Homo sapiens: one gene and its partner. The protein of the gene in region 2 purifies or fractionates together with the protein of the main gene of each other region. This does not show direct contact. Each region holds a gene or a part of one and is shown on either strand. Other genes may lie near its edges.

Region 1 (3,940 bases), on a different chromosome or scaffold from region 2:
ATGGATGAATCTTGAAAATGTTCGGCTAAGTGAAAGCACCCAGTTACAAAAGACCACAGTGTTTAACTCCATTTACATAAAATGGCCAGGACAGGCAAATCTAACACAGACAAAAAGTAGATTCGTGGTTGCCAGGGGCTGAAGGAATCAAGGGGAAATGGGTGGTGACTGTTAATAGTTACAGGGTTCCTTTGTAGGGTGATGAAAATGTTCTAAAATTGTGGGGACGGATGGACTTTGTGAATATACTAAAAATCAATGAACTGTACACTCTAAAGAAGTGAATTGTATGGTATATGAATTTTATCTTAAGCTATCGTTAAACAATGGCAGTTATTACTAAAACCATTATGACATATCATGAGGGTGAAAGTGGTGGAGGACCAGGAGTCTAATCCAAAGGTAGTCACCCTGAGGATGTAATCTTTAACAGACATTGCCTGATGCATTAAACACTGGAGTGAGAATAAAAAAAAAAAAAAGTTCAAAATAATGTAAATCCTTAAGTGATATTCATTATAATATAAAAATTACTTTAAAAGATAAACCTTTCTCTATATACCCATTTAATAATAAACAGTATGAATTCTAGTAGTCATTTTGAATTCATTAGGCATAATTTTTTTAAAACTTGATGTATCATTAAGAACTGAAGCACAACGGCCTTGGAAGAAAAATGTTATTTCTGACAATCTAATTTGATGCATTTTTCTTAATATGCTTTATTAAGTACAAACCATAAAGCATCTACTAAAGTTCAGGTACTTAAAACTAACTGTTATACAGTTACCCTGTACACCAGTCTGAAATCTGTTAATTATGAATAAAAGAGGTCATCAAATGGCTAACACACATCCAACTGGAAAACAGAATGAAAGCCATTAATATACTTCCATTCCAGATATTGCAATTTGTAATTTTCTTAATTGCAGTACAAACCTACAGTAAAAGAAACATTTTGAATTGTTTATAAAAGTTTTAAACGGTGAGCAAAACATAGCTATAACTGGACAAATGGCCAAATTATAGTGCAGCATTTAAAGTTTTTTAAAAGTAACATTAATTCGTATAATTTAACTTTGCCAGATGTGTTATTTCATGTTCTGTTCAGTAACTGTAAAATAGCCTTACCACAGGAATGACATGAGTGACACCATCTCCACTGTCTATTACCGTACCGGTCAACGTCCGTTCTCCTACTTGTCTTGAGGTCCAAGATGCAGCTAAGGCAAGAACAGCCTTGAGCACAAAGAAAGAAGAAAGGCAAAAAAACAAAAAAAAAAAACAAAAAAACAAAGAGTTAATCGAAAAAAAAAAAACTAGTTCCCTGGAGTACTTTATTCAATTTTAAATGTAGTATCTGTGGAAAGAAAATACATAAAATTAATTTTGTATTATGCAATAAAATAGCTCACTCCCTACATTTTATTAAGACAAACTTAGAGGTTTACATTTGCTTTTAGGAGCATGATTTGTAAGATTTACATATTTTATAAAGGCTATTTCTGTCCTAAAGCTAAAAATGTGGAAGATTGCATTAAACAGTACAGAACTAACTGTCTGTAATCCCAGCACTTTGGGAGGCCGAGGCGGGCAGATCACGAGGTCAGGAGATCGAGACCTTCCTGGCTAACACGGGGAAACCCCGTCTCTACTAAAAAATACAAAAACTTAGCCAGGTGCGGTGGCGGGCGCCTGTAGTCCCAGCTACTCAGGAGGCTGAGGCAGGAGAATGGCGTGAACCCGGGAGGCGGAGCTTGCAATGAGCCGAGATCATGCCACTGTACTCCAGACTGAGCGACAGAGCAAGACTCCATCTCAAAAAAAAAAAAAAAAAAAATTGTATAGAACTAACTTGCCAGAACTTAAACTATGTCCACGTGGGCTGGCCTGTTACAAACTGCAATGTAAGGCAGAAAGTACACAACCACCCTACCTCCAGTTATTCAATACATATATGGCTATAAACAACTATTACTAAAAGATTACCTTCTTTTTCTTTTTTTCTTTGAGACAGAGTTTCTTTCTGTCACCCAGGCTGGAATGCAGTGGCACGATCTCGGCTCACCGCAATCTCCGCCTCTTGGGTTCAAGCAATTCTCTGCCTCAGCCTCCGGAGTAGCTGGGATTACAGGTGCCCACCACCACACCCGGCTAATTTTTGTATTTTCAGTAGAGACGGGGTTTCACCATCTCAGCCAGGCTGATCTTGAACTCCTGACCTTGTGATTCACCTGCCTCAGCCTGCCAAAGTGCTGGGATTATAGGCATGAGCCACTGTGCCAGGCCTACCTTCAAATTTTTTTAAGGTAACATGTGTTTAGGACTATATGACATACAGAAAACGCCATCGCACACCTCCAAATACTACTATGATTTAATTATGGAGCAACGTTGATAAAATTTTTCTATGAAAAACCTTGGTACAGACAATACAACACAATTCTTTTTTAAGTGTGAGAATTAAGAAATTAACATAGTTCATTTTTTAAAAAACTAAATTTCTTACAATCCAAGCCTCAAACAAAGTATATGACTAGTAATTAAAAACAACTAAACTTATACTGGACTTATTTTACCTACCTGGACTGTAATAGCTAAAAGGGACCTAGAAAGCTATCTAGGTCACCCTCCTATCTGAACACAAGATCATATTAACACAATCACCACATAATCACTATAGGCTAACAGAACTATACATTATTTTTTGACAATCTTAAAATGAAAAATTCCATCCTAATACTAGTTATATATATATATACTGTTTAGACTTCATTATGAGATATCCTTCCTCTATAAGTAAGTTCAAAACTATCATCTACAACCAAGAATTATCTCTGATCACTTTTACAAGTCTTTTGTAAACAGTTACGGTCCCAAACTAGAATAGATATGTATCAGCACATCATGTTACAGAAATGTTATTGACTACTGAACATCAACAAAACAGAACAGAGATTAAATAATGAAATTAAGAGCACTCAGAGGCCACTAAGGAAATCACTGAAAAACCAAATTACGACTCCAGAGGAATGAAACAAAGCTCATGATGCCAGTGTTTTAAAGTAAGCTTTACCTGACAATATGGTTAAACATAAGTTTATTATATTTAACATAGGATGAGAAGCAAAAACTCCCAAGTGAAAGATGAATTTTCCCAACTCCTCATTTTATTCATATTCTAAGAACTAAAAAAGGGCCTCCCACTCAAGACTGAATTCTTCTATAAAGTTCATGACAGGTTTAAGTGACTCCTTAAATATTTTTAGCAGCAGAGAATTTAAAAGGCAGTTCATTAAATTTATGGATTGCATTAAACATTAAAAAGTTCTTTGCTATCCAAGTTAAAATATTCATCCATAATTATCACTTATTGATTCTGTGTACCGTGGAGTTACAAAAACCAGTGTGATCCCAAGAAAGAGCAAAGTCAGACAGACCTCAGCTGCCTGGTATCACAGCTAACCATTTAATTATGAATAAAGTGCCTTCCAGCTTTAGTTTTCTTCCTCCACAAAAAACAGAAACAAAAATATCTACATTTAATAGAAATAATGAATTAATACACATATAAAGCATTTGTGTTATGTCAGGGATTACCTCTGCTACAAGGGAAAAAAAAAAAAAATGAGGTCAGCTCTGATCCTGAGGGGTGGGAGAGAAGCTGTTCCATACAGATAAACGTACAAATTAAGAGAAGTGAAATATTAGGGTGTCAAATATACCTAAAGATAAGTCAATCAAAAAAGACTACAATAAAGGACAAAAAGATTTATAAGGATAAATGATAAAGGATTATTTACAAGGATAAATATATATACAATGTTCTTGTCACAGAGAAAGCATTCCATAAATATTAGTTCCTTCATTTCTGTCCTATGAAAGCCCTTGAAATACCCAAACACCACTAACTTACTTTTTTAACACTTCTCTTTTCCTG
Region 2 (4,242 bases):
AAACCTCTTAAGCTTGTTTTCCATTTATGACTTCTCTGTGTTACTGTCTCCTTGAATTATGAAAACTCTTTTCTGACACTTGTATGTCTTTTTAAACTTAAGATACCTTTTCTGTATTAAAACAGAATTCTTCATGAATATTTCAGTATGACCTAGTACCTAGAATGTTAAGTAATAGAATCTCTCTGGGTTTTCTTTGCCCTAGTTCAGATCCTTTAAAGTGAGTGAACAAGATTCTGTACTCCTTTCTGAGTACTTTGTATTTCTAGAGTGCAGAATGGAACTTTTTTTGTTTTATAACAGCTTCATTGAGACATACTGTACAGTTCACCCGTTTAAAGTGTACAGTTCTGTGGTTTTTGGTATATTCACAGAGTTGTGCAGCTGTCACCACAGTCAATTTTAGAACATTTTCATCCCCCCCAAAAAGAAACCCCATACCCCTTAGAAGTCCTCCCGTTTCATGTAAATGGAATCATACACTATGTGGTCTTTTGTGTCTTGCCCTTATTTAGCATATTTTCAAGGTTTATATGTGTGGTAGTATTGTATAGTACTTCATTTTTTTTTTTTAATGGTCAAATAATATTCCATTGTTTGGATATGCCGTATTTTGTTTATCCATTCATCAGTTGATGAACATTTGGGTGTTTTTCCTTTTTGGCTATTATGAATAATGCTGTGAACATACGTTTTCATTTCTCCTGAGTATTTACCTAGGAATGTAATCGATGGGTTGTATGGTAACTCTATATTTAACTATTGGAGGAATGGCCAGACTTCTCCAAAGCAGCTGCACCATTTTACGGTATTCACCAAGAGTATATGAAGGTTCTAAATTCTCCACATTCTTGCCAACACTTGTTACTCTCTGACTTTTTGATTCTAGTCATCTGTGTTTCCCTAATGGCTAATGATGTTGAGCATCTTTTCATGTGGTTGGTGAACATTTGTATGTGTAATCTTTGGAGAAATGTCCATTCAAATGCTCTGCCCGTTTTTTAATGGGTTGTCTTTTTATTGGTGTTATAAAAGTTGTTCATGTATTCTAGATTCAAGTGCCTTATCAGCTGTATGATTTGCAAAAATTTTCTTGGATTCTGACATGTCCTTTCATTTTCTTGATGGTGCCCCTTTTTAGGAACAAAGATTTTAAATTTTGATGATTTCCAATTTATGAATAGTGGGGTCTTACTAGTTAGAAATTAGACCTTAAACCACACCCTCCTCAATATTTTGGTTATATAAGTTGAAACCCAAATGTGAGAGGACTGGGGAAAGGTTTGAATTAATATATTTTAAGGTATGCTATAGATGAAAAAGGATTCATCAGGGAACATGCCATTCACCTGTTCAAATCCTCTGGTGACCTCACCTTTACCCACAAAATAAAGTTCAGACTCCTTAATGAGGTGTGGAGTAAGGTGGGCTCTGATTTCAGCCTGCTTTATTTCTCACTATTCCCCTTCCAATGTCTTCATCTCTAGTGCCACTCCCTGAAACATCCCAGCTTTCAAATCTTGTGATGAATTTATTACTTCATCGCCTTTCTACTTCTAGAATCCCACTTGTCCTTTGGGACATGGGTCATGAGGTTTTTCCTCCATGAAAACTTCCTCATCTCACAGGCAGACATTTGTCCCTGCCCTCATGTATTGTACATTCATCAGGACTGTTTGCTACAAAGAACTGGACCTGAATTTGAGCTAATAGTCTGAAAGGTGCCTTTCCATACAAGGCAGAATGCAATAGAGCAATTCACATGGAAGGCAGACTGAGATTCTCTTGTTCATGGCTTGGTCATTAGTGCCTACTGGATATTCGCTGAATGAATGATTGTTTATTGAAGTTAACTGGAAAGATCCTGAGGTCAGTGGGTTTCTCTGATTATCATGAATGTCTTTATTGCCTATGTTAAAATAACATGAATGGGGTAACTCCCTTTTGCCCTTCTGGCATCCAAGTCCAGCTCTTACCAAAAAGTGCTCAAATGTAAAACTGAGTGTTTAAAACATTTCCCCAATGGCAGAACATTCTCGTCCAGGTTCTTTCCCCCGATGAACAGTAATGACTGGCGCACAGTCTCCTCAGTAGGGTAGATGGCCAGCGAACACGATTTAGTCACACCAAATGCATACAGGCCGACCCTGATAGTATTTGGTCAGTTAGTACTGGAACTACCCCTGTCACACTCATGAGAATGGTTGTAAATTGGATTTTAAGGGTGTGTACTTTCTTTTCATTCTTTTTTTTTTTTTTTAATGTTTTGTAGAGATGGGGTCTCACTATGTTGTATAGGCTGGTCTTGAACTCCTGGGCTCAAGCAAGTCTCCTACCTTAGCCTCCGAAAGTGCTAGGATTATAGGCGTGATGCACCATGCCCAGCCTCTTCATTCTTTTGTTCATGCTCTCCTCTCTTGGGGTGTCTGACTCAAATTAGTATTCTTTAGTTATATTTTGTGTTCTTATGTTCATTTTTTTTTTTTTTGAGACAGAGTCTCACTCTGTCGCCCAGGCTAGAGTGCTGGAGTGCAGTGGCACGATCTCAGCTCACTGCAAGCTCTGCCTCCCAGGTTCACGCCGTTCTCCCGCCTCAGCCTCCCAAGTAGCTGGGACTACAGGCGCCCGCCACTACACCCGGCTAATTTTTTGGTATTTTTTAGTAGAGATGGGATTTCACTGTGTTAGCCAGGATGATCTCGATCTCCTGACCTCATAATCCGCCCGCCTCGGCCTCCCAGATTATGTTTATTTTTAAAATACTTTAATTAAAAATATTTCATGCCGGGCGTGGTGGCTCACACCTGTAATCCCAGCACTTTGGGAAGCTGAGGCGGGCAGATCACGAGGTCAGGGGTTTGAGACCAGCCTGGCCAACACGGCCAACCTGTCTCTGCTAAAAATACAAAAATTAGCCGGGTGTGGTGGCACGCGCCTGTAGTCCCAGCTACTCAGGAGGCTGAAGCAGGGGAATTGCTTGAAACCTGGGAGGCAGAGGCTGCAGGGAGCCTAGACTGCGCCATCACACTCCAGCCTGGGCGACAGAGTTGCACTCCAGCCTGGGCGGCAGAGAAAGAATCCGTCTCAAAAAAATAAATAAATAAATAAATAAATTCACTTAGCACCTTTCTGAGAATTAGGAGAAACCAGTTGGCCATTTCGGGATACCTTTTCTTTGTGTGTTCGTTAAAGCTTGGATTGTGGCAAGGTAGTACAGAAGAGAAAGAAAAATGTCAACTTTTTTGTCTAGTTAGGGACAGTGAGCTATGGGTACCTTCTGTAGTTCTCGTTCTAAGAGAGTTTTGTATTTAGGGGAACTGAGGCCGTGAGGGTGCAGGCCTTTAGGGCCAGATAGAGCTGGGCTTCACTCTTGGCTCCGCTTCTTGCTAGCTGTGACTTTGCCAGCTCCCTCACCTCCCTGAGCTTCACTTTCCTCCTCTGTAGTGTGGAGATGCAAAAGGCTTACCTTGCAGGGTCATTGGCAAGATTAAGCAAGGAAAATTATATGAAGTGCCTAATACAGAGTAGGTACTGAATACATTCCTGTTCCCTCTCTTCTCTCTTAAATGTCTGTTAATGAATGGAACTGCAGAGAAGCAAATAGAGTAAGTTTAATACATTTTACATCTGACATTAAGCTATTAAGGGTATGGATTCCTACTCCCACCTGAGGATTTTAGACTTTGAATCAAAGTTGAGTCACTGAAGAGGGCAAAAAATGTCTAATTTTAGGATGGGAAGGCGGTCTTAAAAACACCTCCAGTGTTTTTGCATCTGTCTGAATTGGAAATGTCTATTCAGACAGTCTTCTCTATTCAGGTCTGTGTATTCAGTCTCTCTGTCTGTGTGTCTGTCTGTCCATTTTAAGGAAAGTTCCTGGCAAAAGATGGATTTTTTTAGGATTTGAAGGAGATTGCACTGCAGTGCTTGAGATAACTCTTCTGGTTACAGTGTGATAAAGTGTAACATCCTGTGTGGGAAAAGAGCCTCTATAGTTTTATGGTATGTTAAATTAGGCCTGTCATTTGGATCTTACATTAATAACAAAAATACAGTTCCTCCCGTTTGCTGCAGTAATGAGTAATTAATATAATGCAAAGGTCAGAGTGAGAGAGACTATAAATGGGAGTAGGAAGGCCTATACATTGTATGTGGAAGGCAGTTATATTTTTTCCCCTTTGGTCAGGCAATGATCTACATTTCTTCTTAAAAATTTATGAATAATGGATTATATTTGGCACC

The links.
Region 1: the proteins of CORO1C (region 2) and ACTR3 fractionate together in Homo sapiens (co-fractionation; one large-scale study listed by BioGRID). This does not show direct contact.

The regions. Positions count from the first base shown.
Region 1 is NC_000002.12:113,931,578-113,935,517, reverse strand, and holds part of ACTR3 (actin-related protein 3), read right to left. Parts: intron 1,240-3,940; coding exon 1,132-1,239; intron 1-1,131. UniProt on the Homo sapiens protein: ATP-binding component of the Arp2/3 complex, a multiprotein complex that mediates actin polymerization upon stimulation by nucleation-promoting factor (NPF).
Region 2 is NC_000012.12:108,724,673-108,728,914, reverse strand, and holds part of CORO1C (coronin-1C), read left to right. Parts: intron 1-4,242. UniProt on the Homo sapiens protein: Plays a role in directed cell migration by regulating the activation and subcellular location of RAC1. Increases the presence of activated RAC1 at the leading edge of migrating cells.